Regions from separate parts of the Homo sapiens genome. Here region 1 is linked to region 2. The links come from fine-mapping of genetic effects on gene expression. A gene starts in region 2. The other region holds a variant in brackets. All regions are shown on one strand. Distances are from middle to middle. Region 1 has its middle 44 kb from the start of FASLG. Region 2 holds the start of FASLG (Fas ligand).

Evidence for each region.
Region 1: its variant is fine-mapped to the expression of FASLG in whole blood (TOPMed, PIP above 0.99). The same link has a PIP of 0.9 or more in blood mononuclear cells.

The regions. Positions count from the first base shown.
Region 1 is chr1:172,695,213-172,711,278 of GRCh38, forward strand. No RefSeq gene overlaps it. Among named protein-coding and RNA genes, the nearest start is that of FASLG, 44 kb to the left of the region's middle. The variant C/A (reference allele first, on the strand shown) is at 8,970.
Region 2 is chr1:172,651,135-172,667,200 of GRCh38, forward strand. FASLG (Fas ligand) reads left to right here and starts at 7,969. Exons shown (of 4, transcript NM_000639.3): 1 at 7,969-8,415; 2 at 8,961-9,006; 3 at 13,200-13,256; 4 at 14,488-15,742. The coding sequence starts at 8,068. The coding sequence ends at 14,882.

The sequences.
Region 1 (16,066 bases), 44 kb after region 2:
GCTTTTAGTATGTACTAGGTATAGGGTTGGGCAGGGGGCAAATATGAACATGACGGACTCCCTGACCTCAAGGATGATGCAGTAAAGTCAGGGAGAATGGTATGAATAGAGTCAGAATATAATGGCATCTTGCTAGAGCAGAGGAGTGTATAGAGTTCATGGGGGCTTTAGATAAAATTCAGTGAAGGCTTCTCAGAGGAAAGAGCTTTTAGTTAAGACATAAGAGACGAGGAAGAGATGGCAGATGTATTTTTATATAAAGGACTAGCATATGCAGACATTGAGGCATGACAGAGCATTAGTTGTTCAGACGAGCACAAATAAGTTTTTATTGTCTAAATGAAAAATGTAATGGTGATGGTACAGGGTGCAGAGAGTGTAGGGAAAAGATGGGAAAGGCCACAAAGAACCTTGTTAATCATGCAAAGGGGTTTTATATTATCAGCTAGTCCATAGGAATCAATGCAAGGGAGCAACACGGCAACATAATCAGATCTACATGTTGAAATAATCATTTAGGCAATATAAATCAGAGGCTTGTCATTAAAGACAGTGAGATCAGTAAGGAAGGCTCTTGTACTATGACTACTACCAATTCTGCCCATTGCTGTCACTTATAAACTCGTTCCTCTGCCAGGCACTTTACACATTTGTTTCATTTTGTCTTCATGCCAACCTTATTTTACAAATGAAGAAACTGAGGCTTAAAGAGGTTAATTCACTTGTCCAAATTAACATAGTGGAGAATAGCCAAATGAAAGTTAAACTCAAGTCAACAGACCAACAGGTTTCCAAAAGTTGGTATTCTTCTCAAATAATATTTGTTTCTAGTGTCAGTCCAGGAAAGGGATGCTTATGGCTAGAATTGGGGTAAGTGCAGCAGAGAAGATGAGAAACCAGACATGAGAAATGTTTAGGACTCAGTGACTAACTGAACATAGGGGCAAAGGGAGAGATAAAGCCTGAGTGAATGCCCAGATTCCAGGCAGGGCAGTTGGGCGGGTGATGAAGACATTCATCAAGAGATGTAAAATAGAAGAGGAGGAGGGTTTCTGGGGAAGATAATGAGTTCTGTTTTGGATCTCTAGTTTATGGTGCCACTCATAAGCTAAAGAATAGGGTGGTTGGAGGTCTGCATGAATTGTGGTGGAAGGATAAAAGGGCAAGGGGAGAGGAAGATTCTGGTAAAGGAGTTGTGTAATTTGTTCCCCAGACAACCGGACCCCTACAATCTTGACTGATGTGACAGGCCCCTGAATCTTCCCAGCATATTTTCCTACCCTCTGGAGTACACACATCCTACAAAGGTCTCCAAAATATTTGCCACATCTTGCTCATTGGCTGATTAACATGGTGTTATCTATAGAAGATACTAATATTATGTTCTTTGGAATGTTCAGACAGTCCAAGCCCCTTCAGACTATATTATGCCAGAGGAAGAGGATAATACAACCCTAGGGGAAGACCAAAAATGTAGACTATTGTCCCTTCCATATGAATGTGGGCTGCTTTTGATCTATTGTCTTGAAAGGATGTAAAGGAACTCATTGGCTAGGTCAATGGCACATGTAGCTGAGGCTGTGCTAATCTATTCTAACAAAGACATCACATCTGTCACAGCAAGTGCACTTAGAGCCAGTACAGATGGAGTTTGCAGCAGTCCATGGGCATCCTCCAGGATCCATAGAGTTTCTTTATGGGTTAGACTGGTAAATTAAATGGAAATATGATAAGGACTACCACCCCTGCCATTTCCCCTAGGATGCAAAATTGGTTTGGATTTATTGTGTTCACTGAGGGATGGTTGTGGTGGTGGTGGTGGAGTTTGCTTTTCCCCACTGTGACATACTATGTTGTGAATGAGCCTAGTTATTGGCCAGGTGGCCAGAAAGGGAGGTGGGAGTAAATTCTGACCTTTGAAAATATTGTTTTTCAAGACAGTGGCTGCTGTGTCATCTTCATGTAAAGGAGAAGTGTTAGCCTTTAATAGGGAAGAGTAGGATAGTTCTGCTCATCCAGAAAGGTCAAATGAATTTGGTGTTTCAAGGTTTTTGAGTATATTGACCCAAATGTCCTATTTCCAAGTCTCAAGGTACCATTGTTTTTCAACTAGGGTCCTTCTTCTGACAAAGCAGACTTGCCAAAGTTGAGGATTTAAATTTCCCTGGAGTCTACTAACCTGTCATTAAGACCTAGAACTGATCCTCAGAGTTTTTTTTTGCCTTCCAGCTTTAGGAAGTAAGAGTCTCTAGGATGCTGCCAAGGAGGCCTTCTGACTTTGCAATCATCATCTCTATTGACTGAATATTAGGCTGAGTTAAGTCTTGTGGTGGGCTGTCTTGGAGACAAACAGAGAATTAAATTTAAACCAGACCTTACCTAGTGGGTTGCCGACGCTCTTCCTCTCAGGCAGCCCTTCAGAGCAACTTCCTGTTCTCATGAGGAAGAAACCCGAGTGAATTTCTTTAGGCAGAAAAGACAAAAGAAAGACAGTGTCATTTCCTATGCTGAGATTATGACTGAGTATCATCCACTTAGGTCAAACCTTTAACAGAAAGGAGGAGTTTCTGATAAGCAGCTAATTAGGGGGAAGAATGAAGTGTTTAACGTTAGAAACAGTGAGTTTCAGTATGTAGTGAGGGCCATATCCAGTTTAGGAGTGAGTGCAGTTGGTTTGGTTCTGAGCACACTGAGTTTGAGGTCCAGGGGTACTTTAACAGGGAGGTGTTCTGTGAAATTGGTAGGACTGACACACAGGAGAGATGTCAGGGCCAGAGAGGCAATTGGGGAATTACCTGTATGTTTGAAGATTTGAGAGGTGATGGAGAAACATGTGGAGTGACAAGAGCAAAAAAGGTTGAGGATAGAGCCTTGGATTATACCTGATTGGTGAATGGAAAGAGGATGTAAAACCAATGAAAAAGAAAGATTAACACATGCCATAGAAAAATTGTGACAATATAGGCTCTTGCATGCCAAGGCAGATTAAATTTTGGAAGGAAAACATGGTGATGAGTGCCTACGGCTAATGAGAGATAGGAGCATGAGGGCTCTGATTTGGGGACCAGGAACCACTGGGAACATTGGAGACAATTGTTTCATTGAGGTGATGTGGACTGGAACTAAGTGCCTACATACAGGGAGTGATTCAGTGGTGACAAAACAGGGGAGATGAGGACAGATAACCTTTCAAAAAATATAGGCAGGAAATGAAAGAGAAAAAGAACTCCAGAGTTGATGTCAGAGTTTCATATGCCAGTGAAACAAACTTCAGAGCTCCTCACTACTCTGGGCCTGGAAGGCCGTGAATTTTGTGATGATACCATAAATGGTATTCATCAGCTTTTTAAAAATGTGCAATTTGTTATGATTTCTCTTCTTATTCTAAATAAATGCTCACATTGGTACCTAATTTTGTATTTGTAATTTGTAATATTCTTTTTTCTAAAAGATGCCACCAAAATTGTTTAAGTTTTAGGTTGCCTAAACCTGAATACTCTCTGGCAAGGATGTATGTTACAGATTCATCAGTAAGGGAATTTCTTCTCTCCTGTCCTCTCAGGCCCAAGAAAAGTTTTGGTAGAGATGAATTCCAACTCTACCAGTGAACATGCTAGCATGCTGGTCTTGACTAAGCAGATACAGCAGTTATATCACTCTGAAAGTTGAAAGGGTACTTTATTTTGGCTCCTTCCAGTTTAGGCCTTTCCTCCTTTCCTTTAACCTCCCATTAGCACAAATTGGTTGATCCAGAAGGTACTCTGGAAAATACCTTTGGAGTGGTATTTGGTGATCCTTCGGGTTCTTTGTCAACTTGAGGTTCTTTATTTGTTTCAAAGAGCAGGCCTTCAAGGTATCTGTGCCCAGATGGGGGAAGGTGGCAGGAAGGCAATGGTGACAAGGAAGAGTGACTAGTTCTGAGGGAGGATAAGGACAGGGGACAGCATAGGAGGTTTGGTCCAGATGAGGGGTCAGAGGTGAGGTAACTGGGTTTTCTGGGGTGGCCAAGAACACAGGCCAGGACTGATAGGATGAGGGAAGAGTTAAAGCTGTACCTGGGAGGATACATAAGAGAGAGAGAGCATGGAAGGTGAGGTAGTGTCAGGGGTGAGTGTGTCTGCCTCAGAGATGCCTCCGGAGAAATTCTCTCACAGGAAGCCTTGTCTGATCACTGACTCATTGTGTGGCCGGCTTTTCCTGTGCTTCAGTTTCCCCTCTGTAGATGAGAAGCACCGCAGAGGGCTACAGAAAGGAAAGTCTAAGAAAAACAGAACACAGCACTGGTAGTATAGAAATTCTTCTATGGTTCCTATGGTAATAATCCTTAGCTGAAGATAAAAAAAAAAAGTGAGCAAAATACATGTCCACTTTGTTAGATATATTGCAAATTGAGATCTTTATCTTCCAGGGGATTGTCACTAAAAGAGATAATTTTCTCAAGAAAACTCCAAGTTTCAGGGTCCTCAGTTTGCCATTGACATGCAGAAGTTGAATTAGGCACAATTTTTGTAGTAAGGAAAGAAATGGTAAACAAATATTAGGTCATTTATTCAAAATAACATGTACTGAGTGCTCACTATGTGCCAGTGTCCCCACTTTATAATAGTTGCTAAGACTTCAAAGCTGGAAAGGGTATATTTAGCCTTATACGAGTATGGCAGAGAGAAAGGAATTGCAGCTATTTACAGTTGCATGAGCTACAGGCTCTACTCCAGAGGCATGTGCCAGGTGCTCTGAGTGATCCCAAAAAAGAGCCCTGAACAGAGCGGACATAAGCCAGAGTTTCACAAAGACAAGTTTCACAAAGAAACTGACGTGTGGGCTGGGCTCTGGAAGTGTTAAATGAGAAGGGGCCGAGTAGCAAAATGAAGGGTGGGAGGACATGGGAGGAGGATTTTCCACTTTGGCAGGAAACCTCAAGTCAGACTATTTGAGTAACAATTCCTTAGAAACTGACAATATGTTGATACATCTTCATATGTCTTGGGAACATTTTCTAGACCCTTGTCCCCACTGGAGCCCCAACACACATTTCTATTTAACTCACTCCTTTGTCCAAAAGCATTCAGTAGCTTCACAATGATTATGAAAATGATCCAAACCCCTCTTCTGGAATATGATGCCCTGCCTGATTTTGACCCGTCTTGAGCAGCTCTTCTCTTCACCCACTTGATTTTTATCGCTCATTATGTGACTGGCTACTTCTCATTCTCCAGGTTTCCATGTAAATTTCCTCTCCCCGAAGAGGACTTGACTGACCTGCTTATCTAAGTAGGCTCCTCATACTCCATCCTGATTTTTCTATATTATTGTATACTATAAGTAAAATATTTGTTGGATAAATTGAATGTTGATTGAAATAATAGTAATACAGCATTTACTGAATTCTTACTATATGCAATTCAGTATACTATAAGACAACCATATTGTACCAACACTATGCTTACTTCTTTATAAACATTGCCTCATTTTGTTCTTACAATAAACTTGTGAAATAAGTACTAGTATTATTATTCCTATTGTACAGAAGAAGAAACTGAAACTTAAGAGAGGCCAAGCAAATTAGCCCAGGAAACACAGCTGGCGATAGAGTAACAGGCTTAGAAATCAGAAAATCTAACCTCAGAGTCTACCCTTTTAAACATATCTACTTAAATCATTTTAAATATTGCCTTTTGAATGTGTATGACAGCGCAAAATCTCAGCAAATGATTATCACGTTTATTTCAGATCAGCCTGTGTTCTATAAATTTGTAAGTGATCAGACTCATTAATCTAGATTTTTTTTACTACAGTTCATGTTATCATTCATGTAATCAATTGATATTTTGTCCTTTAGCAAAAGGAAAACATGAAGTTAGTTCACTCCTTTCTACTCTTCAAATTTTTCTTATCACATAATTGATGTAATACCTATGCGAGTGCATTCAGTAGAGAATTCCAAGGCAGTGCACCTCAACATGTATGAACATTTTGGTTTATAAGAATCATCTCTGGGTCTTATTAAAATGCAGTTTCTGGTTCAGTTGGCCTAGGATGGGACCTGAGATACTGCACTTCTAGTAAGTTCCAGTTGAGGCTAATACTGCTAGTTGGGGACCACACTTTGAGTAGCAAGGTTTTAAAGGATAAGAGTAATGTAGAGCCTGGGTTTTTCCTTCTTTCCCCACCAGGGGAAATAACATTCTACCAGCTGGCCATCTGAAGACAGACCTTGGTGGAGACTGAGGATGAGGATATGCAATTATACTAGAATTAAATCCCCAGGAGATTAGGGTCCTTTTCTGCATGTTCCCCATTCCTGGCACAGAGTCAGAGCTTAATAATTATTGAAGGAAGAGAATCTGTTCTTTCTTAGAAAAGTAAATAATAGTTCATAACAACATTCTGTCATGTATTCCCAGTCCTGTGGCTACAGTGGAATCCACATATCAAGGTAAATTCCTTTTTTGCACAGTAACTTGTATGAAGGGGATGGCAGGCAATGCTTACGTGGGAACACAGAGGGAAAATGGGGTCCTAAGCCTTATACTTTGATGAATAGTCAAGTCCCTTTTGGATTTGTCTTTTCTGAGTTAGGGGCATATGCAACAGGCTGCTCTCTATTGCTGTGGGATTGAGTGGGTTTCTGAACACACTGACTCATTCCTCCATACATGTGAAAGCACCATTCGAAGGACTTGAGACATATTGGTGAGCAAACATAGACCCCTATCCTCATGAAGCTTTTATTGCTGCTGGTGGAGACAGAAATAATAAATGAAACAAATAAGTATGTTACATGTTATACGGTGATAGGATTAAGAAAAAAAGAGAAGTAGAGCAAGATAGGGAAAGTATAAGAGTATGAGATAGAATGCGGTTGTAGTATTACATAGGAAGGCCAGAGTAGGTCTCGCTGAAAACGACATTTGAGTGAAGGCTTAAGAGGGGATGAGGGAATGATTCAGGTAGATTTCAGGGGCATGCGTGTTTCCAGGCAGAGGCAACAGCTGGTATAAAGAACCTAAGGAAGGAGAGTTGCTGGCATGTTCCAGGCAGCACAAGGAGGTCAGTTTGTCTGGAGTGGAGTGGGGGATGAGGAGAGTCATATGAAGTGAGGTCAGAGAATTAAGGAGGTAGGTGAAGGGTTATTCAGGCACGTCCTTACTGGGCACTGTAAGGGCTTTGGGTTTTACTCTGAGTGAGGTAGGGATCCTCTTTAGGGGAGTGATATGATCTGACTTATGCTTTAAGAGGGTCTGACTTCTGCGTTGTGAAGAGACTATGGATGGGCAACGGTAAAGGCAAGGAGACCAGGAAAGAGCTGTGGCAACAATCCAAGAGATAGGTGAGGGTGAAAAGGGCCAGGGTGGGAGCAGCAGAGGTAGTGAGAAGTGGTCAGATCCTGGAAATATTTTCAAGGCAAGAGGTGACAGGATTTACTGACTGATAGGATGTGGGTTGTGAGAGAGAAAGAGGTCAGGCATGCTGGGTGGGTTTGATGATACCCAGCTCAGACACACACAGGTTATTTTTGACCTGAGTGACTGGAGGGATGAAGTAACAATTAACCAAGATGAAGACAGGGAAGATCAGGAGTTCACGTGTGAGAGAGAAGAGGAAAAGTTCTGTTTTGGATAAGTTGAACCTAAAGGGACTTGTGTTTCCAACACTTTATATTTCAACACTTTATATTCAAAAATATAAAGTAGGCAGTTCTGGATATGATTCTAAAGTTCAAGAGAGAGGTTTGGGCTGGATGTAGAAATTTGAGAGTCATGGAATATAACACTATTGAAAGTCATGAGACTGGATAAGTGAATGTTGACAGAGAAAAACAGAGGAACAAGGACTGAGTCTTGGCATACACCAGGATAAAGAGATTAGAAAGAAGAGGAGAAACCAGTAAAGGAGAGGGAAAAGAAGTGACCCACAGGGTAGGAGGAAAACCAGAGTGTGGGCTCCTAGAAATCAGGTGGAGAAAGTGTATGAAGGAGTAGGGAATGGTCTACTATGTCAAATGATTTTTACAGATCAAGTATGACGAGTGCTCAGAAATGCTGAGAATTGAGCCAACAAAGTAGGGGTCATTGGTGACTTTGATAAGAGCAGGTTTGGTGTGACTTTGAGGACAAACATCTTATTTGAAGGAGTGTAAGAAAGAATAAGAGAAGAAAAACTGGAGAGAGCAGATACAGACTCACTTGAGGACTTTTATAGTAAAATATAGCATATTATTAAGGGGAAAAGAGCCAAACACATAAAGAAATTTGAAAGAGAAGTGGAAAAGAAATCAATTCAATTAGGCAAGATGAAGAATAAAGTGGAGGATGGAAATTAGAAATTTATTTATTAGCAGAAAACTAATACTTCTAAATATTTTTGAAGGTCCTTATTAGGAATGCTCAGCCCTGGGCTGGGTGTTGCACCCTTCAGTCTTTAAAGAGATTACAGTCAAGTTGGTAGGACAGGCCTTCTATGTAAATGTTTAGATGATCACAAAAAGATTAGAACCATGGCAGTTCTGGGCATGACAAATGTCAAGTAAACGTTCCAGATCAGCTCTGGTCTGAATTATAGGAGTCGGGGGATTCATTGTGGAACAAGATGGTAAAACCATTTCTAGAAAGGATGTGGGTCAAGAGCTGGACCTATATCCCTTGAGAGATAGGTGGGAATGACCCAGCAGACAGATGTGAACAAAAGCAATAAACAGTAATGCTCTTGGTGTGGGCAAGGCCCAGTAAATCACTCCTTCTGCCACTGTGCTGAGCAGATGTTTCATGAATAGGGGAAGAGTGGGAAAAACAACATATGAGGGCAATAAATCCTTTTAAGGTCTCCTTCTAGTCAATAGTTGTGACTTCCCAACTCAATGAACCTTTAGTTTTAAGTCACTAAGAAGAAACAAAACTAAGAAATTGTCCATTCTTTAAAGGCAGACACCCTCACCTCTTCCCCACTGTGGGTGGTACTTATAGAGATGG[C/A]ACACCCAGAGATGGGCAGAGAGAGGAAGAGGATGTGGCACACCACTCGGATAGAGAGGTCAGAGGGATCAACAGCCTGCTGTCTGCCAGGACTTTTAAGAAAATGCTCCTTGGTCTTTGGCTGTGTCTTATTGACTTAACCTGTATATAGAAGAAAGGAATTTTTGTAGGTCAGTCAAATGTATAAATGCCCTTATAAATTAATATATCAATGACATATTCAATACATACACCACTTTTCAACTTCTGTAGCTTTTATACCTTGTATGAAGAGAAGGAACATTGAAGGAGCTTGCTAGATTATCCAGCTCAGACCCACCCAGGCAATTCATAGGCAAAATACTTGTTTCCTCAGAGGGTTTGCAGGAATAAGCTGGTGTTGGGGGAAGGGGGAGGGAAGGAAAGGAAAATGAAAACAATGTGTAAAATAAAAATCACAAAGAGAAGGCCCTGGCTTTGTCTCCTTCCATTGTCACTTCCCCATCTCAATAGCACTCTCTTAGTGATTCCTTCCTGTCCCTGACTCTGGCTTCTTCCAAGTGCACTCCTAGTTCCCTTCCAGGCCTTCATGTCAGGAAACCAGCCTCTGCTTATCTGTGGTTAGGATGAGCCAGTTGTCAAAAAAAATTCTCTAGTTCCAGAGCTTTCATTCTCCTCATAAGTTACCTTTCTGAGCCCTCCTTCTACATAGCCAAATGTCTCTTTCCTCCTAGAACAAAAGAAGAGAAAACTGCTTTCCTATGAGCCCCCTCTTCTGAAGAGACATTTCCTGGCAGCGTGCTGTGGTCTTGTCTGGAGGTAGGCTTTAGTTGCTTGAGGTTTCAATAATTTTCATAACGAACAAGGGCTACAAGTAGGTAAGCCTTATTTACTTTTGGTAAGTAGACATTTGGGGGGATAGATGATTCATTTTGACATGTTCTGCTACAATTTTACCATAATTGCAAGAGATTATACAGGAAAATGAAAGCAGGGAGGAGCACTGGAGAAATCACCAAATAGACAAGCCCACTCCATCTTATAACATTATAGTTATAGCCATTGGACAGAGACAGAGGTTTTCTTTTAGCCATGCCACAATGTATACATATTTCAAATTATCATGTTGTACATGATAAACCCATTAGATTCCCAATTAAAAACCCAGTTAGAGTCCAAACAATATGTGCCATAGATAAAAGACACTCCCAGGAAGCTTGTAGTACTTTAATATGGTTGACGGTTGTTTAAACATTATTCCTTTTCAAGAAAAATACAATTCAAGTCATTTGCTTGTTTGTATATAGTGGTCAATAGTTATTACATTTGCTTGCTTGTATATAGCAACACATTTACTTGCTTGTATATAGTGGTAAATAGTTATTAAATATAGATAATAGTGAATATAAATGAAATAGGGTTTCCCTAGCTGAGCATATAGACATCTTATTTAATCACGCCATTGAATACTCATTGATCCAAATGTGAAGCATCTGTGTTATTCTCTGAGGCTGTTTTGTTCTCCTCTGTGTGGATCCAAATACTAGGGCCAATAAAAGGTCATTGCTGACATGGCCTGTGATGTCCCTTTGGAATAGAACAATGATGGTCCAGGTGGTGTACCTTTCATGAAGACAGATAGCCTGTATTGAGCATGGAAGAGCTTAGACAGTGGGATAGAACCCTTTTTAAGAACCCTTTTTTTTTAAGGTTTTATTTTTTTGATCTCATCGAAGATCAGCTCTGGTCATCTCAGAAGTACAGAGTGCTGTATTATGGTTCTTTTACTGATCTTCTGGAAGGAGAAGCAAAGTGCAACATACTGTGGGCCCCTACCTTAAATGGGAATGTTGGGTAGTTACTCCAGCTAGAAAACCACAAGGGCCAGGTGTATGTATTGGTCATGGAGACTTTGTTGTTTGTGTAACTAAGTACCCAAATTCAGTGTTGAAAATAAGGTCCCCAGATTTCTGAGCCTGCTTTTAAATATTTGATCAACATATTTCTCGAGAGAGACAGAGAGCAAACTTAGCTGTCTCATATGTACCTGAAAATGAACATTCCTTGAACTAAATTATGGCCCTCCTCCTCCTCCCTACCACCTGCCCCACCAACTTCCCTGCTCTGAATCTCAGTAAATGGCACTGTTCTCCACACATGAGGCCAGGGATCAGGGATCACTTCTGATTACGCTCTCTCCTTTACTCCTCTGTCCAACCCATTATCAAGTCTACCACCTCCATGCTTTCCATCCTGTAAGATTCTTTCCCATCCTTGTCCTTTCACTTGGTTTCCTGCTCTTCTGGCCCTACTCTTGACCTCCAGGAATCCATTCTTCACCTTGCTATTGGAGTATTCTTTTAAGATCACATATCACACATCTGGTTCTGCTGTTCACTTCTTTGCTTAAAACTCTTCCAGGGCTTCTCATTGAGGTGAGCCCCAATTTCTTAACTTGGCTCACCTACTGATGTGGCCCTCTGGCTACTTGTGCCACTACACTGACTCTTACCCCTCCAGCCTCAGTGGAAGCCTCCCAATTTCTGTTCCTGCCATCTTCTGTGTGGACCTGAATACTAGGGCCAATTAAAGTTCATGCGCTGAAATGTCCCTTCATGTGCTGTCCCTTTACCTGACCCTCCTTCCCCCAAGTCACACACTCTTTGTTTAAATAACTCCCACTTATTGTTCCAGGCTCAAATTAAATGCGACTTTCTTCAAGAAGGCCTTCTCTGGCTCCACCAGACCCTAAAAGTTCCCCTAGCTGTACATGTCCAGAGGCCCCTGTATTCTTCTTTGTAGTACTTTTGCACATTAGAAATTTCTTCATTATGTATATTTATGTATTTAATGTGTGTCTTCTCCACTTGACCATAAGGGCGAATTCCCTTCTATTCACTGCTGTGTACCTAGTGTCCAGTGTTGTGCCTGGCACATAAGGCACCCAAAAAACATTCTCTGACTAATGCTGACTCCCTGGATCAGGGTAATTTTGCCAGCAAGTAGCAGAATTCTCAGACTCAAATGTGCCTTTAATATAAGGTTTGCAATTCTTTCATGTGTCAGAAAGTTCAGAGATAGGGCAGGTTTCAAAGTGTTGATTTAGCAGCCCAAAGGGTTACAGCATTCTGCTTTCTACCATGCTGGCTTCTTCTTGGGTCAATTTCGGTGTGTGGTAATCAGAATACTTGCATAGAGTCTGCCTTGCTTCTCACCAAGGGTGAGTGGGAAGTGACTGTGGCCACGGATACATCAGAGGGAGCCAGGCTTAGGGTCTTCAGAAGTGACAAGACCCCATGGGTTGGCCACGGCACATCCTGCCTGCTGTTGCTGCTAATTCAGCAGTGGTTTCCAAGACCCCAAAGATTCCATGAAAACTAGCACTTAGGTAGTATGCTTTATTGAAGATCTCTTAAATAAAGTATTGACCATCACATTCACAGTTCAGTGCGGGCTTCTCTGGCAAAAGAACAAAAGACAGTGAAAGAAAATGAGGGTGAGAGCAAAACTGACCCTCAGATTGTCTTCATTTTCCAAGGATTCAAATTGAAACACTTGCAAGCAAAACCCTCTTTTCTAGGAGAGCCAGAAGTGGACTTATTTTGCCTTTTCTGAAAAGAAATGAAGGCTTCCTGAATGTTTGGCTTTCTTAGTGACTTCAAAAATGCCACCAAATTTTCATTTTGGAATCTTATGGAGATGTTTAGATTCTGAATATAAACAAGCAGTACTTAACATTTATTTTCTCTTTTAGATAATGGGCCTGAATTTATGTATACTGAGTTAAAACCTCATGCTCTAATTAAGAAGAGCCAGGATTCTCTTTTTCTATTTTCTAAATTCTGTGGGAACCCATAGTTAACCTTCAGACTCTTTGCTTTGACAAAACACTTAAATTTTTAAAAATTACACATGAGGAGCAGAGAGAGAGCGAACAGATCTCAACGATAAATAAAGCATGAATTGACTTTAGTGGCAAAAGCATGGCAAGTACTGTGGCTAGGGCTTAATTCCCGGTGAACGAAGAATACTCGGACATTGACAGATTCAAGTAAATGAAGACGCTCGGTTGGTGGCTTCTGAGAAAAATGTTTTCCTGGCCGGGGGTGTGGAAATCAGGTTCCAATGTGTCTGTAGGTACAGCTTATTCTCTCTGATGGTCTTTCTTTTTCTTTGTTTATAACTTGATAAGACTGCATTGTTGTTCTTTCTAACCTTTTATTTTATTGCTCTTAAAACAACTTAGTGATCTAAAGATACTGGGGAAATCTGTTCTCAAGTAAAACTTTTGTTTCCAAGTGGGATGTGGGAGGTGGAGGTCACCTTGGGTACTCCCTGCTCTGCGGATTTCTGAGTGAGAAGACACCTGCTTCAGTTGACACGCTGAAAACAAGCTAAACAGCTAGAGCTTTTTCTTTTGATCTCTCCCATGGTGTGGGATTTCCTCACCTCACATTTGCTGAGCATTGATTTCCACTGCAGATATAAGGTGTCTGAGTTTGTCACTGTTTCCCCACACTGTTTGTCAACTTTTACTTTTTGTTTAATCAGGCAGCCCCATGGGGGTGGAATATTATTCATTGTTCCAAGTAGTGCATAATCAGACAACCTGAGGATGTTTGCAGCCTTTGATGTATGAAATTGTGTCTCTCTCTGGGGACTCCTCAGCTGTAGATTTGATGGGTGTTTTCCATGTTCGCTTTGCAGGCTGAGCTGTCTACTCTTTATGAGGCTGGGAGATGAGGTGTTGGGGAGAAGAGATGAGAAAATTGCTTTTCTCTTTTTTGCTAACCTATGCATTTGTTTTTAAGATACTTGCAGAATACTGAAGAAGACAATCTAGCTTTGAAGTCTGTACTTATCCTTCTCCCCATACTTACACCAATTGATTCTGAAATGACCCAGTGGCTGGGACTGGCTGGTTGGGGGCAACTTCTTCTTTATCCTTTCTCTATGTCCCTCCAGAAGCTTCAGTCTCAACAGTAGGGACTGCATTTTATTAACAAACAAGTTCCATTCTGCTGTCAAGAGTATGTGAGTAATTTTCTCTTCAGGTTGAAGAACAAAATAAAATGATCAGAAAAAAGCTAACCAATTTCAATTAGTAGAGGACTATCCTTCTTTTACACATCCCACTCAAAACTTTAAGATCAAAATGATAGAGTAAAATTGCTTTATACAACCGAAAAACTAAATCCCGTCTCAAAGAGGTTAATAACTTTCATGACAGAACCTGATTTACAAAGCACATGGGCTCCTCTTGTTCATTTTCATGCCAGCAGCCACAGTAATGATTTAGAAAACATAAACTAGATTGTACAGCTCCCCAGCATTAACCCCTTCATAATTTTCTGTTACTCTAAGGATAACATCTAAACTCTTGACCATGGCCTGTCTGGCCTGTGTGGTCTGGCCCCTTTCTACCTCCCCATCCTCATCTCCACTATGCTCCAACTGCACTGGCCCCTTTGACTCCGGGAACCATCACACTCTAACCCCAGAGTCTTTGCACATGCTATTTCTTCTTCTTGAAATGCTTCTCTTTACTCATAAACTCCATATGTGGCTTGTTTGCTCTCGGGTGATCTCAGAAAGGCCTTCCGCAGTCATGCTAACAAGAGCCCTCCCCACTATTCTGTATTACTACACTCTGTTCAATTACCTCATGCATTTATCAATAACTTTTGATTATCAGTGTGCTTATTTCCTTGTGAATTGTCTGTCTCTCCTTATTGGACTACAAAGACTATGCCTGTCTTTTATTCTTCTCTTTTTTTCTCTGTTTTCATTTCTTTTTTTTTTTAAGGTGAGCAGGAGAACTAGAAGAAACAATTATATATAGGTTTATTTTAAAAGTTATGGTATAATTTACATAAAACAAAGAAGGAATATTTTAAATTTTCAGTAACCACCATTCGTAATAAGATACAGACTTTTCCCAACATCCTTGAAAGTTCCCTCATGCCCTTCTCCAGTTAATCCCTCACCAAAGGTAACCATTTTTGGACTTATGTCACTATACCTCAGTTTTTCCTATTCTTGGCTTCTTACTTTCATTATGTTGTAATGTCTTTAAGATTCACTCATGTTGTTGCATGTATCAGAAGTTCATATATTTTTATTGCTGAATAGTTTTCCATTGTAAGAATACACTAAAAATTGTTTCTCCATTCTCTGTTGATAACGTCTGGGTCATTTCCAGATTTTGTCTTTTATGGATAAATTTGTTATGACTATTCTTGTACAACAAGTATTTTATGGGCATATTATTCATTTTGGGGGGGCATTCACCTAGAAGTGGAATTGCTGACTCATGGGGTAGATGCATATTTAACCTTATGAAAAATGACCAAAAACATTTCCATGAGCGAGGGCTTAGCTTAATTAAAGTGATTGATTTGCAGTCAATTGATGTAGGATAGAGTCTTGCATGCAGTCCTTAAAGTTTATTACAGAAAATTTATTACAGAAATTAATACTTACCTTAGTAAGTAGAATATACTTTTATTCATTGAAATACAACTGATTTTTAATTTTAGGGCTTGTTTTATTCACTAAAATATTCCTTATTCTTTATTCTAGGGCTTCACACATGGTGGTTATTTATGATCTCTCTGTTGAATGATTTAATGCTCTTTTTAGCCTTCTGACTTCCTGAGAGGCATTGATCAATTATTCAAGGGTGGAATTTGTATTGAGAAATTATGACTCTAAGGTAAAACTTAAATCATCATTATGATAAACAGACAAATACAAGAAAAATACACAAGGTAAATTGTGAAATTAGGCCTCAGCCTCAGGATTGTTTTGTCCTTCCTTTCTTCCCTCCTTCCTTCCTCCTTTCCTTCCTTCCCTCCTTCCTTCCCTCCTTCCTTCCATCCGTCTTTCCTTCTATCCTTCTTTCCTTCCATCCTTCCTTCCTGTTTTCCTTTCTGTCTTTCTTATTTTTCTTCTTTCTTTATCTTTTTCTTTTTCCATGACCACTACTTCCTAAGCAGAAAATATTTTCTACCCTTTGGTACCATAAGTTGAGCCTTGTGTGGGTTTTGGTTATAATTTTTCTTCCCGAGAGAACAGAATAATTTGTAAGGAGGGCTAGTCATTGAGCACCCATTGAA
Region 2 (16,066 bases):
TGGAAGAGTGTCAGATACCCTTGGTGCCAGAGCTATGGTTCTGCACATTTCTGTTTCCCACATTGCCATAATTAGTTACATAATCATAATTGCATAATCATTCTCATAACAAATTACACCAATAATTACATTATTACACTAATAATTTCATTAGTGTAATTAATTATAGAAAGAGAACATTCTGAAAGCTTCTGGAGAAAAATGGCAAATCACCTGAAAAGGAATGAGAGTTAGATTGACCACCAACTTCTCAATAACAGCCCTGGATACAAGAAGACAAAAAGTTATGTTTGCCATTTTTTGGGAAAAAAGTATGTCATATTTGGAAATGTATATTCAAGTAAACCATCATTTAAGTATGAAGACAAAGGAAACATAAAAATACAACACAATCCAGAATTTAAATTTTAGGTGCTATCGACATGGCACTCCACCAACATGATGGAGGTAGTGGCTGGGAATGGAGTGGTTATACTAAAGTGCTAATGCTGTTCAGAGAACTATATAGATATTTATAAATTTAAGAGATTGGTGGAAAAATAGACAAGAGCCCATTTTTTTGATAAATTAAAAGTAACCACCAGAAGAATAAAAATAAGAATATTCAAATTTTCTACCAGCAGAAAAACAATTTGGTCTAGCTAGTAAAAGGAAGGAAGAGGGCAGGAGGAACCTGATAAATAACCATGAAATAAGATGGTATTAATATATAAGCCCTAGTATAACCACAGTAGCAATTTTAGTATCAGGCAGAACAGAATCCAAGGTAAGGAAATATTCTAAGGCTAAAAATTGGGCAAAATACACTCATAGGAGTGAAAGTAAAATAATTAGGAACATATATGTATCTAACAAGATAGCTCAAAACAAGGGATCAAATGACAAATATATAAAGAAATAAATATATTATTAATTGCACTTGGAAATTTTAATATATTCATTTTAGAGACTGAAATGTCAAGCAAAGATACAGCACACTTGAATGATATAATTAAAAAGCCTCAACTGATATATATATGTAAATTATACCAAATACATGGATTTATAGCAAATTGAAAATAGATTTTTTTTCAAATAAGAGACACTCTCACAAAAATAGAGTATTAGCTGCAAGAAAAGTCTCAATAAGTTTCAAATGGTCAACATTATACAGACTACATTTTGCTCTCTCTCCTGAGAACTTAACCTGTATGGACCATGTCAGTGGGTTTCCTTGCTGTCTGGACTTCAGTAGAGTTTGCCCAATGTGGAGTACCAGCAGAAGAGAAGGAGGTGGTGGAACAGGGTACTGATTGTGGCTCCTCCTTGTGTGGTCACCTTAGACAGGCTGGCAATTCTTAACTGGAAGTCAACAACCCTGGTCCTACAAGCTCTAGAGCATCATAGGATCCCTTTTGGTTTCCCACCTTTGTGTTTGTAAACAATCCCTTTTATTAAGTCCTTCTTAAGTTATTCTAATTTGAGTGTTTCAGCTGTTTGCAGATGAGATCCTATTGATACAATAGGGAAATTCTCTTAGTGACAGAGGCAACAGACAAAAATCCAAATACCTTTGGAAAATATACTCACACTTATTATGAGAAACTTTAGATGCAGACTCTTCAAGAGTAGGATGAAGACAAACAGGTCCAAAATCACGGGTACTGTTCTAAAGAGTTCTTGAGGTCTGGGACAATATGAAAAGAAAAAGAATGAGGTATAAGGATTGAAAAAAAGATAAAAAATGGTCACCTTTTCCACTGATAATATAGATCTCTATTAAAAAACAGAATCAACAGACACACTATCAAAAGTAAAAAGAGAGATCCACAAGTTTGCAAGAATCAATATTATTTATTACAAAATAAAGAGTATTTATCTAAACCAACAATAACCGTCTGTTATTAGGTGTCTATTGCTGCATAAAAATTTACCCCAAAGCATAATGATTTGAAATAAAAAATATTTATTATCTCACAATTTCTGTGGGTCAGGAATCCAAGCTTGGTTTTGCTGGGTGACTTGGGCTAACCTATGAGAGAGGTTGGGCTGCAATCATCTCCAGGCTCAACTGGAGCAGAATCCACTCATGTGACTCACTCACGTTGCTGTTGGAGGCTTCAGGTCCTTGCTGGATGTTCGCCAGAAAAATTACTTCTTTGCGACATGGGCCTCTCTATTGGTCTACGCACAATCTGGAAGTTTGCTTCCCCTAGAATAGGGGAGGGGAGGAAGAGATGAAAACTGTAGTTCTTTTTGCAGTTTAATCTTAGAGGAGAAATCCCATCATTTCTGCTGTATTCTATTAGCTAGAATTGAGTCAGTTAAGTCTAGGCCACTCTCAAGGAGAGGGTATAATAGAAGTGCATAAATACCAGGAAGTGGGCAATTATTGGCATCATCTTAGAGACTACCTACCACAGCATCTGAAAATACCACAGAAAATAAGACCCCATTTGTAACCACAACAAAATTACAAAGCATCAAGCAATTCATCTAAGAAAGGGTGTATGAGACTACTCTGGAGAAAAATTTTAAAGGTCATAAAAATATGAAAAACTGTTACGGATAGGGTAAAAATAACAGTTCCTCCAAATTATTGCAATTACATTTAATGGTTCAGTAGGATGTTTTAGGAACATGATAGTTTTTTCATATACATATACATATATACACATATATATTTTTCCATATATATTTCATATATATACATATACATATGAAAAAATGAAATTAAATATGCCCAAAGTTGAGTCGATTTTAAAAAGAGAAAAACAAAAAGGAGGGGATTTTGCCATACCATCTCTCAAGACATTCCACAAAGCTGCAATTACAGAAACAATGTGACCCTGGTATCAGAATAGATAAACAGATCAATGAAATAGAAATAAGAGTTCAGAAAAAGACTCGACTATATGTGGAAACTTGATATGTGATAAATATGCCAATTCAGTGGAAGAAAAGATGGGATGTGTGGAAAAATTAGATCATACATGGAGAAAAATAGACTCCTGTCTCATCTCACAAAGGTGGACTCCAGATGGATTAAAGTCTAAATACAAAACCTGTGCAACTATGGATTATATCTATAATATTAAGTACAAGGAGATCCTGCAAATCAGCACAAAAAAAGGTAAGAAACCCAGTTTAAAAATGGGCATGGCATGTGAACAGGAAATATATACAAAAAGGAAAACTTGAATGCCAACAAGCATATGATCAGATGTTTAACCTCACAAGAGATCAGAAAAAGGAAGATCAATAGACAATGATATATAACTTTATAGTCATAATGCTTGGCAAAAATTAAAAGATGGATAATACCAAGTAGAGCTGAGGACATGGGATAAAATAGTTCTTCATAATTGGTGGTGGTGTCAAGGCATTCAGCCACTCAGATGAGCATCCAGAAATCACTTAGTGAAATTAAATATATAGGTGCATGTCTGTGAATAAACAAGTTTCAGCCAGGAGTGTACTGGGGTCTTTGCTCACCTCTGGGGAAAATCAGATTTGGTTTTCTTACTAACTTGGCAGATGCCCTTGGAAGTCTCCTCTAGGTTTGTGAAGGTTCATAGCAGCTACTTTCCTTATGCATCACTCTCTGCGACTGCTGAGTCACCTCTGGAGCTCTGAGTTACAATCCACTGAGTCCACTTCCCTGGTAGAACACTGGATGGAAGAAAGAAATAGGAACTTTGTTCTCTTTATGCCCCTGTCCTTTTAACCTCCATGTGACTAACATCCTAGGTGTAGCAGCATACTTAAATCCTTTTTCTAGATGGTTAAGACAATTTCTGAAGGAAATTACAATGCCGGAGGGACCACAATTGAAGATAACTTGAATTTTCATCTAATGAGAAGATACTTTAAAAAATCATAACAACTAGTATAAGGTGGTTTCTCCTATTTTGTCCTCCATATAAATTTGCTCCCAAGTGTCACCCAGGTCCCTTTGAATCTCTATGGCTCGTAAGCCCCCCCCTCCTCCTCAAAGAGATTGTCAGCTCTGAATATTTCTCCTTTGTCTATCCTCAAGGAACCTCTGGTTCCAGAATCAGAGATTCTGCAGGTGTAATTGGGGAGGGTAGAGCAAGACTTAGCAAAGCTCTTCCATTTAAATTCCCAGCCTGTGGGAGCCACCAGCCTTTGATTTATTTATTAAGTTCATCTCTCAAAGGCAAATATTATTTTCTTTAGCATTCACAGAACTAAGATCTACTTGTAACAATTATTTCTCCTTATTAATAAGGTTTGGAAATACCCCAAAACATAATGGGTCCCTGTTATTGTACATAGGGTTGTTTTATTTTTCCATGACTTTGCCAACCTGTGATGTTTGGTGGCATTACTGAAGATCAATATGAGTGTTTAAAGATGCTCTCTTTGACTCTATTTCAGTTCAGATTCTCTCTATGCCTGGAGGATAGCAGGAGAGTTGGGGGCAGGTATGGTCTTCTAATTTCTTCTGTTGCAGAATGAATCAACAGAAGCAGCAGGGAAGAAGGAGATGTAAAAATACAGCATAATTCTTATTGGACAGTGCTGGAAGTTCCTGTGGGAGTTTGAGATAGAAAAATCGAGAGGTACTAGTCTGAAATGGAGAGGCTCATCAGTTCAGGGTAGGATCTCAGAGAGATACTGGATGTCAAACGTGGACTTTGCACTTTCCCCTGCAACCTCTCTCCCTCTCTCCACTTTGTTTGTCCTTAATGGAAGAAGGTCGATTATATTAAGTCTACAGATGAATTATTTGGGGAAAGATTCACTAAATTTACAACATCTTTTGAGTGCCTACCTTGGTGCTAGGGACTATTCTAAGTGTATCAAATGCTTTGACTCATTTAATCCTCCCAACCCCCGTAAAGCAAGTACTATTATGATCATGCTTATTTTTATAAATGAGAAAACTGTGGCACCGAGGAGGGAAGGTGACCTGTCCAGTTCACACAGTTAATGAGCAGAAGAGCTGGGATTGGAAGTCACATAGTTTAACTCCAGAACCACCCACTCCCAACCATCATGCAACACCACCTCCCCATCCAGGATATGGTGTATTTTTCCCACTTATTTGAATCTTTGACATTTTCAGTAGAATTTTTATAATTTAAAAGATATGGGCCATGCACGGTGGCTCACGCCTGTAATCCCAGCACTTTGGGAGGCTGAGGCGGGCAGATCACGAGGTCAAGAGATCGAGACCATCCTGGCCAACATGGTGAAACCCCATCTCTACTAAAAATACAAAAATTAGCTGTGTGTGGTGGCATGTGCCTGTAGTCCCAGCTACTCGGGAGGCTAAGGCAGGAGAATCACTTGAACCCAGGAGGCAGATGTTGCAGTGAGCTGAGATCACGCCATTGCGTGCCAGCCTGGCGACAGAGTAAGACTCAATCTCAAAAAAATAAAAAATACATATATATGGTTCTGGACAATTTTTCTTACAGTTATTTTGGGATTTTCAAATAGTTTTTTTGTTGTCTATATGGTAGAATTCTTAAAATTACAATTTCTGATTATGAAATTTAAAGTTAGTTGAATTCATAACGATGAATAAAGTCACATGTGAGTTCAAAAGCTCGTTAACTCGTGCACTGTCTTGCTAGTCTCATCCCTTGCACTGTTTAAGAGTGGAGAGTGGGATGTGAGCAGGAGTGCCTGGTAAGGAGGCAGTAGGAGCTGACGCTAAAGAGCCTTGGGTAACGGTAAGAAGCTTGCCTTGCTCCTGAATCAAACCTTCCAACAGAAGGCAGGGAAGTGAGATCATTAGGTTTGTTTTTTAAAAAGCATTTTTCTTATAGCATTTTACTGGGTGATTTGGGCTTGGGAAAGGTCGGTGGCAGGGCACCTGTTAGGGCATTATTGCAGTATTTCAAGTGAGAGATAAAGTCTGACCCCAGGCAACAGCAGTAAGAAAAATGGGAGTAGCGAGGATGGGGCAGGGGGGCAGTACACTGAGGGGAGGGTAAGGAACAGGTCTCAGGTAAAAGCGACAGTCCTGGGTGACCAGTTAAACGTTGGGGGAGAGGAAAAGAAAGGAGATGAAGTTGCCACCAGAAAGAGTGGCCTCAGGAGAAAGGGGTTGTACAGGGTTGGGGATGGGGTGGGATGGGCAGAATGTATCAGAGAAATAGTACCCTTGGGGTTGGTGTGGTACAGGTGAGTGGGCCTGAATGATAGTAATGGAAATCCCAAAGCATGATATAAAAACTAACGAAATTTGAAAAGTAATAAACATGAAAAAAATGAAAAATTTTGATTTATGGGGGATTTATTTGGCTTCTATTGGAGAATGATTAGGACTGAAGCTAACTACTTGGAAGTTATTGGCATATAAATGGTATGTGAGGCCAGAGGAAATGGTGAGATGAGCCCAAGTAGAGAGGCCAGCTTTAAACAACAACAACAACTACCAAAAAAAAAAAAAAAAAAAAAAAAGCAAAACAAAGAAATAGGACACAGAGTTAGATTTGAATGTCAGATATATGATGAATAATTGTTTAGTATATTCCATGTTTGGACATGTTTAAGACCTACTTGTCCTAAAAATAATGTATTATTTATCTGAAATTCAAATTTAACTGGGCACCATGTATTTCATCTGGCAACCATAACAGGGGCAGCACACAGAAATGTTGGCAGGGACCAGGCAGGCCTTTCAGATAGTGAGGTGGTGTGTGAGACACAGGCCAGTGGTGGAGGCTGGGTGACCCAGAACTCCTGTCTCTCATTCTCAGGGGCAGCTGCTACATACTTCCCACTGATTGGGTTTGCAGAGATGGCCTCGAGGGTGTCTGATATTCTGATATTTCAAAACAGAATAGAAATATGTATTTTAATGTGTATTTAATATATATATTTTAAAATATTTTTAATGTTGATATTAAAAGTGGTCAGTTGGGCTCAGTGCAGTGGCTCATGCCTGTAATTCCAGCACTTTGGGAAACTGAGGCAGGAGGATGTCTTGAAGCTAGGAGTTTGAGACAAGCCTGGGCAACATAGCAAGTCCCCATCTGTACAAAAAAAAAAAAGAATAAATTAGTCAGGTGTAGTGACTTATGCCTATAATCCCAGCTACTCAGGAGGCCAAGGCAAGAGGATTGCTTGAGCCCAGGAGTTTGAGGCTGCAGTTAACTACGATAGCACCACTGCACTCCAGCCTGGGTGACAGAGTGAGACTCTGTCTCTATTTAAATAAATAAGTAAATAAATAAACTGGGCAAACAATGAAAATGAAAACATTGCGAAATACAAAGCAGCTCTGTGGGTTCCACTGGTTTGCAGCCTCTGATCTAATTTCTAAAGTGGGTGTAGCAGGTTTTTAACCTGTAAATTATGGTGATCGGCAGGTCAGGGTAAATGGTAGTTGTGTGTGGGGAAGAGATGATGGCAACAGATGTTTTCCTCCTGCAAAAACTAAAATGTGGGAGTGACTTCTCTGGCCATGACTCCATGGTCTCTCCCCTCAGAGCCATTTTCAGTAAAATTTTTATAGTTTAAAAAATACGGTTCTGAACAATTTTTGTTAGAGTTATTTTGGGATTTTTAAATAGTTTTTTGGTTGTGTATATGGTAGAATTCTTAAAATTATACAATTATAATGTATAAAAAAGCATGCAATTATAATTCATAAAATTATAGCCCCACTGACCATTCTCCTGTAGCTGGGAGCAGTTCACACTAACAGGGCTATACCCCCATGCTGACCTGCTCTGCAGGATCCCAGGAAGGTGAGCATAGCCTACTAACCTGTTTGGGTAGCACAGCGACAGCAACTGAGGCCTTGAAGGCTGTTATCAGAAAATTGTGGGCGGAAACTTCCAGGGGTTTGCTCTGAGCTTCTTGAGGCTTCTCAGCTTCAGCTGCAAAGTGAGTGGGTGTTTCTTTGAGAAGCAGAATCAGAGAGAGAGAGATAGAGAAAGAGAAAGACAGAGGTGTTTCCCTTAGCTATGGAAACTCTATAAGAGAGATCCAGCTTGCCTCCTCTTGAGCAGTCAGCAACAGGGTCCCGTCCTTGACACCTCAGCCTCTACAGGACTGAGAAGAAGTAAAACCGTTTGCTGGGGCTGGCCTGACTCACCAGCTGCCATGCAGCAGCCCTTCAATTACCCATATCCCCAGATCTACTGGGTGGACAGCAGTGCCAGCTCTCCCTGGGCCCCTCCAGGCACAGTTCTTCCCTGTCCAACCTCTGTGCCCAGAAGGCCTGGTCAAAGGAGGCCACCACCACCACCGCCACCGCCACCACTACCACCTCCGCCGCCGCCGCCACCACTGCCTCCACTACCGCTGCCACCCCTGAAGAAGAGAGGGAACCACAGCACAGGCCTGTGTCTCCTTGTGATGTTTTTCATGGTTCTGGTTGCCTTGGTAGGATTGGGCCTGGGGATGTTTCAGCTCTTCCACCTACAGAAGGAGCTGGCAGAACTCCGAGAGGTAAGCCTGCCGGCAGACTGCTGTGCCCTGGAGGCACCAGGCATAAGGGGATGGAGGGCCCACTGCCTGGCTTGCAAAGTGCTTTTCAATCCTTTTTTTTTTTTTCTTAGAAATGGGTTGTTCTAGTTATTCTATTCTATAGACAGAGAAATGGAGGCTCATAGGGGTGAAGGGAATATTTTTTACTTTGTAAAGAATCAGAGCCCAACAGTTTGTCTTTCCTCAGTTGTCAACTCAGTCTGTTGAACCACTTACTGCCTCATACCTATTGATTTAAGGAGTAAAAAACAAACAAACAAAACTTTTAAGTTTTGCTTGGAAGTAAATTTGTTCAGATGACCAAACTAAATCTTGAAAATTGGTACGATTCCAAATCACAAAACTGAGGGACAGTGAGGCAAAATTGCTTGGCCAAAGCCCAAGTTAGCAGAACTTCTGAGGTATTTGGATTCTCTTTCCAGGGCTTGGTTTATTTGACGATTCTGCCTCTTTTGCTTAAAGAATTTTATTTTTATTATACATCTTTTCTCTTTCTGTTTTACTAGTCTACCAGCCAGATGCACACAGCATCATCTTTGGAGAAGCAAATAGGTGAGTCTTTTTTCGCATGTACATTGAGTTCCCAAAGATGATCCTCAGCACAGAACTATGTTAATGGAATGCCTTAAATTCTGTCCCACACTTTGGTTTCTGTACACTATAAGAGGAATTCTGGCTAATTCAGAATCTCTGGTCTATGATTCCTTGAGCTGCTTTAAAAATGTGAAGTGAATTGAATTGCTCACAATCAATATAGCTGAGCACTGCACACAATTCAAAATCACTTCCACTTGACTTTGGAAAGAGACACACATATACAACCCTGGACCTTTGCCCCCTGAGAAGTGGCTCCAGGCCTGTCCCCTTCCACAGACATCCTGGTCCTGGCACACACGCCAGTGGCTGTAACTCCTGGGAAGAGAAGGCGAAATGAAGGCAGAGACAGATGTTTCTGAGAAACGTCCTTTCCTCTTTTAAATGCCCTAAAGAGATTACATTGAAGCTTTATTTACAATATGTTTTATAGGATGTAAGCTTTTAAAACATGGATAATCAATTCCCCACATTAGAATGGTTTTTCTTGAAGTCACTGAGAAGCTTAAGGGAAGACTTCAGCCATCATTCAAAGGATGTTCAGCTTCACCCACAGAGGCAGTCATGAGGTACCCTTGATCACAAAGGAAAATCCTTTGTATGGGAGCTAGGGCAAGAAGATGATAGGTTGAACACTGATCTCATGAAATTTCAGGGCATAGTTGTGCAAGCTCTGTACAGATAGATTTTACAGTGTGCTTCACTAGTCTAAGATTCATTGAAATTTTAGATTTAGATTTACAATGAGATTCATTGAATTTTTAGAGGTGGAAGGAAGCTTAGAATATATCTAGTCCAGCCATTTCATTTTTTGGAAGAGAAACAAAATACCAGATGGATTAGGTGAATATGCCCAAGACCACTGGTATGCCATTGGGGCTAGAAGGAACACAGGCTCTTGATGCCTTGTCACCTACAGGGCTTTCCAGTACTGGACTGGTGCCTCATGAAGGAGGGAAACTCCTGTCTCTCTGTAGTGAGCATGGAATAAGAAATAGATGAAAAGCAGGATACCTCTGCAAAGACTATAGGTAGATCTCATCCTTAGAAACTCAGAATAAAGAAGAAGGCAGCACTGGCCATCTATTAAGTGAAGCAAGTTCCAGTTTCTCCGGATGTGGCTACTGCACATGACCCAGTCGCCTGTCTACTATCCTAGACTGTTAAGTTCTTATATGAGCCACTGTTGGGATGCTCTGGCCCCTGCTTCTGTGTCCTAATCCTTAAATGTTAGAAAGTCCATATGTACACAAGCAGAGTGGAAATATTTGATAGAAAAGTAAAGCCTCTGGAGGACGTCTGAAATAAGATCATTTTGAAAATCTGTGGAATGTGCCTGGTCTGATAGGTATCTAATTATTCATCTTTCACCCACTCTCTGGAGTCAATTTAGTGATTAAAAGTCAAATGATCAGGTGAGTCAGATCCATCTACCCCAGTAAGCAATTATGTTCTCTAGATCAACCCAAATAAACCAGAAATTGGTAAATCATCACATGGAAATCAAATCAGTAACTTTACTAATAAGAAAAGAGATGCAAATTAAAAATAGGGAATACCAATTTTCATCAAATTAATAAAGATTAAAAAAAAACCCAGACTGACAAAGATTTGAGAGAAAAGTGCCTGTGCAAACATTAGTTTCAGCCAGTATACATGTAAATTGCTATAACTTTTTTTGAAGAGCGCTTTAGAAATACATAGCAAAAGCTTGTAACTAGTAGTTTACGTTGTAATCCTATCGCTAAGAATTTATCTTAAGAAAATAATCAGAGATGTGCCCGAAGATTTATATATAAGGATGTTCATTACTTCCTTATGAGCCTATTTATAATAAATAATTCAGAAGAAACTTGAATGCCTCATACGAGATTAGTTATATACATTATGGTGTATTCAGACAAGCACATAATAAGCAGCAACTAAAAGTGATGTATCAGAAGGACATTTAATGCTTTGGGGATTGTGCACTCTGTATTGTTAGATAAAAAGACAAGTTACAAAAGGGTATGTTTAGTTTCATACTGACTATGTAACCATGTATGCACATTTTTATATTCTTAGGAACTGGAAAGTTTTACACACTGACATACTAACAGTGATTTTCTCTGGGAGATACTATTATAGATTATTTATACTTTCTAATTTGCTCCTTTTTACATTTTCCATTTTTTTCCGGTTAACTAATTAAATCTTTTATTCATTCACATGTGTGAGGCTAGATGTTGGGTGTTGGATGCTGATTGAGGATGAGCCAGCCCAGGGGGCCTGTCCTTATGGAGCTTTTAGCAGGGGGAAGAAGCTAAACAAAAGCAAGCAAACAGACCATGCAATTCCAAAGTTGTACTAAGTACAACCTGAGAATCTTCTTTAAGGAGGTGTTGTTTACGCTAACACCTTGGGGGTCAGAAGCCCGATGAGTGAACGGCTGTGTGCATGTGCTGTGGAGTGGGGTGGGGCTGGGGGCGGGCATTTCAGCGCTGGGAACGGCACATGCAAAAACCCTGGGGCAGGAAGCACTCATAACCAGTGTCTAGGATATCCTTGCAATTTATTTATTCCAGTATAGGTACAGCAGATATTCTTAGTGAGCATGTTCTGTAAGAATAACGTTGTACTAGGCTCTGTGAGGGATATAAAGACATGCAACATGTGGTTCTCTGTTCCGTTTCCTGCCGGTGCGTGGCTGAGTGCCAGATTAGTTGCTCGGGTGGTTTGCGGTGTAGGAATGCAGAGGAGACTCAGTTTTGCCTTTCCTGTTCGCTAACACCTCCTACATGGTGGGTTGTCTTGGATGACTAGAGAGGTCATGATTGCTCAGCTAATGTTCTCTGTGGATTGGGCCATTCTCATACCATATGTGAGTTTTACAGGCTAATCACGAACCTGACATAGACAAGCATCTCCTGTGAATATTTATTGAAGTCTCAGTTAGCTGAATTCATTAGCTAAGTGGCAGCTGTCTATCTTGTCTGAAACAGTTGAAGTCAGAGAAATAGTGTCTGTTTTGAGAACTATTGTCTATCCTTCCATTTAATTTGTCCAACATTTGCTAGTAACATGCCCTGTGTTAGAAACTGGGCTTCTCTGGTGAACTCAACGTATCGTAAGGAACTTGTCGTTATTTGAGGGGAATAAGATAATTTATGTAGTTACCCCAGAGACAAGAGGAGTCAGAAATGACAAGAGAGGGGAAGACAGAGGGATCCTAGATTTCAAAAGAGGGGCAGATCATATTTGATCAAAAAAGGCTTGAGAGGGTTTCCCAAAGAAAGCGGTAATAGGTAGTCCTTATGGGATGTTTAGGAATTTGACACAGAAATCTGCTTGAAAGAACATTACGGGCAGAAGACATGGCATGAACAAAGGCACAGAGGAAGGAAAGTGGGGGTATGTGTAGGCCACAGAACTCCCGTTGTGTGGCAATGCTCAGTGGGAGTAAGGAGATAAGGCTGGACAGATGGGCTGGGATTGTGTGATGGGGATACTTGTATACGACGGCATCTTCGGGGAGGAGCAATTAAAGGTGTTTGAGGACTCAGTGATATGAGGTGATTGTCAGAGGTCTTAAGATAATTAATTTGGGGCAGATTGTAAAATGTCACTGGGGGAAGATCTGGTGACACGCAGACAGATCAGTAGTCTTCTTCAGCCTCTGTCCTGTAAGTCTTTGGAACAAGAGAATCAGAGTGGACAGAGCCCTGGAATTGGCGTCAGGAGAGCAGGGTGTGGTCCCATCTGTGATGCTGACTAGCTGGGTCTTCTTGGATTAGTCACCCAACTTCTAAGCTCATTTTGCAATCGATAAGGTGGGACAATAATACCTACCTCAAAGGGTTGTGGTGAGTTCTAAATGCAATAACTGACATGACAGCTCTTTATGAATAAATGTTTATATTAATTATGTTTTATTGTAACATTATAATTTATACATATGTCAATCTTAATTTGGTTTATTTTTTTACCTCTTTGTTTCTGAAATATAGACTACTATGAATCCTGCAGTTCAGACCTACATGATTAGTATATGTTAGACTGTTGCCATTTACGGTTTTAAAATCTTTTTTTTAAAATGATTGGATTTAAATTCCCACCAAAATAATAGTTGCTATTTCATTTTAACATATATTTTTCCTCTCTCTATGATACAGGCCACCCCAGTCCACCCCCTGAAAAAAAGGAGCTGAGGAAAGTGGCCCATTTAACAGGTCTGTATCTGGAAGGTACAGGTGAGATTTGGGAAAGCTTTTGGCAAAAGGCAAAATGGCTGCCTGGTTTCCATTACCAGGCTCTAGAGAGTTGTTACTTCCTGGAGACAGTATTTGAACCCAATAATACTAACACTTTTCTTGTCGAGTCAGTCTTATGAACACACTTTGATCCCCTATTCTCTGGGCAAGGCCCTCTTCTAAATTGGAGACCTGGAGCTGATTATGACATGACCCCTGCCCATAAGAAGCTCATTCTTTTCAGTCATTCCAAAGTCCCTTGGGGGATTGGGGGCACAGATCCAAGAGGTGAGAGATGAGAAGGTGAGGAATGAGGACTTATTTTAGTCAGTGCTTTCTTGGTTTTCTGGAAGAGCTTCACTCTGCTTTGTCCAAGAGTATAAATAGGAGTGAGAAGGGAGACTCAATCCTGGCACTTGTAGAGTTTCAATATGTGCCTGTAAAGTGGAGTGAAATGATATGGTATGGGCACTCCCATTATAAACTACATAAATAATGGAATAAATATCACAGAAAGTGGTAGGCTATTGTCCCTGGAATTATTTAGGCAGAAATTATAGAATGATCCGGTCACATCAGCAGACACTTACTGAATACCTGCTGTGTGCCAATTTGGGGATGTGAAGATGAGTAGCACATGGCTCTTGCCCCCAGGGAGCTTGACATCTAATAGGGAAAGACAGGCACTTATGATAATTTCAGTACTTCAGAGATTTAGGTTATGTTCATGATGTTGTGGGGATACAAAGAAAAGGGAACTGTACCCCAAATTGAGGGGCTGAATAATTCTTACTGCAGGTGAGAAGATGGACCAGATGGTCCCTAAGATCCTTCCCAACTTTAGAACTTTAGAGTTCCTTGGATTTGGCTTTTTCCTTCAGGAAAGGACTTCAAAGCCTAGCAGATTTGGTGCTAGTTCTGAAGATAGTAAAATCTTTGTTCCAGAGAGCAAATATTTTCTCAATAATTTCTTACTGCAATGGATTACGGGTATATACTATTGTTCCAATTGTGTGGATGACAAAATAGGACAACGTTGTTGAGGAAATTCTGTGATGGATCAAGTTCTGACCCCTCAGCCAGTTCTATACCAGCTGTCATTCTGGGTGAAACATTTGTTGAAGGAAGGGCCCACAGTTTTGCCTTAGAAACTTAGTTTGTTGGATGCATGACTATTCCTTGTTGAAAGCTCCTTTTGGATTTATTTCAGGCAAGTCCAACTCAAGGTCCATGCCTCTGGAATGGGAAGACACCTATGGAATTGTCCTGCTTTCTGGAGTGAAGTATAAGAAGGGTGGCCTTGTGATCAATGAAACTGGGCTGTACTTTGTATATTCCAAAGTATACTTCCGGGGTCAATCTTGCAACAACCTGCCCCTGAGCCACAAGGTCTACATGAGGAACTCTAAGTATCCCCAGGATCTGGTGATGATGGAGGGGAAGATGATGAGCTACTGCACTACTGGGCAGATGTGGGCCCGCAGCAGCTACCTGGGGGCAGTGTTCAATCTTACCAGTGCTGATCATTTATATGTCAACGTATCTGAGCTCTCTCTGGTCAATTTTGAGGAATCTCAGACGTTTTTCGGCTTATATAAGCTCTAAGAGAAGCACTTTGGGATTCTTTCCATTATGATTCTTTGTTACAGGCACCGAGAATGTTGTATTCAGTGAGGGTCTTCTTACATGCATTTGAGGTCAAGTAAGAAGACATGAACCAAGTGGACCTTGAGACCACAGGGTTCAAAATGTCTGTAGCTCCTCAACTCACCTAATGTTTATGAGCCAGACAAATGGAGGAATATGACGGAAGAACATAGAACTCTGGGCTGCCATGTGAAGAGGGAGAAGCATGAAAAAGCAGCTACCAGGTGTTCTACACTCATCTTAGTGCCTGAGAGTATTTAGGCAGATTGAAAAGGACACCTTTTAACTCACCTCTCAAGGTGGGCCTTGCTACCTCAAGGGGGACTGTCTTTCAGATACATGGTTGTGACCTGAGGATTTAAGGGATGGAAAAGGAAGACTAGAGGCTTGCATAATAAGCTAAAGAGGCTGAAAGAGGCCAATGCCCCACTGGCAGCATCTTCACTTCTAAATGCATATCCTGAGCCATCGGTGAAACTAACAGATAAGCAAGAGAGATGTTTTGGGGACTCATTTCATTCCTAACACAGCATGTGTATTTCCAGTGCAATTGTAGGGGTGTGTGTGTGTGTGTGTGTGTGTGTGTGTGTATGACTAAAGAGAGAATGTAGATATTGTGAAGTACATATTAGGAAAATATGGGTTGCATTTGGTCAAGATTTTGAATGCTTCCTGACAATCAACTCTAATAGTGCTTAAAAATCATTGATTGTCAGCTACTAATGATGTTTTCCTATAATATAATAAATATTTATGTAGATGTGCATTTTTGTGAAATGAAAACATGTAATAAAAAGTATATGTTAGGATACAAATAATTTTTAGAATTTACTAATATTTGAATTTTTTGCTTATTATTTCTTTCCTCCTTGATTTCTTCATTCATTATGATATCAGACCACTTTTAAGAATAATTTACTGGAGTGAGAAGAACTATGAATCAAATCTTTCTGCCTTTGCTAGGCCTTCCTTCTCTCTATATATTCTCTTTCCTCTTCACCTCCCAGAGTTTCCATTACCAATATTATGACCAATGTTAAGCTTAGCCAACTTTCCATAGATTTGATGAGAAATTATATTTTCCTGAAGGCAGAACCATGGCACAGTGGAAAGGGCACATATTTTGGACTAAAAAACTTAGA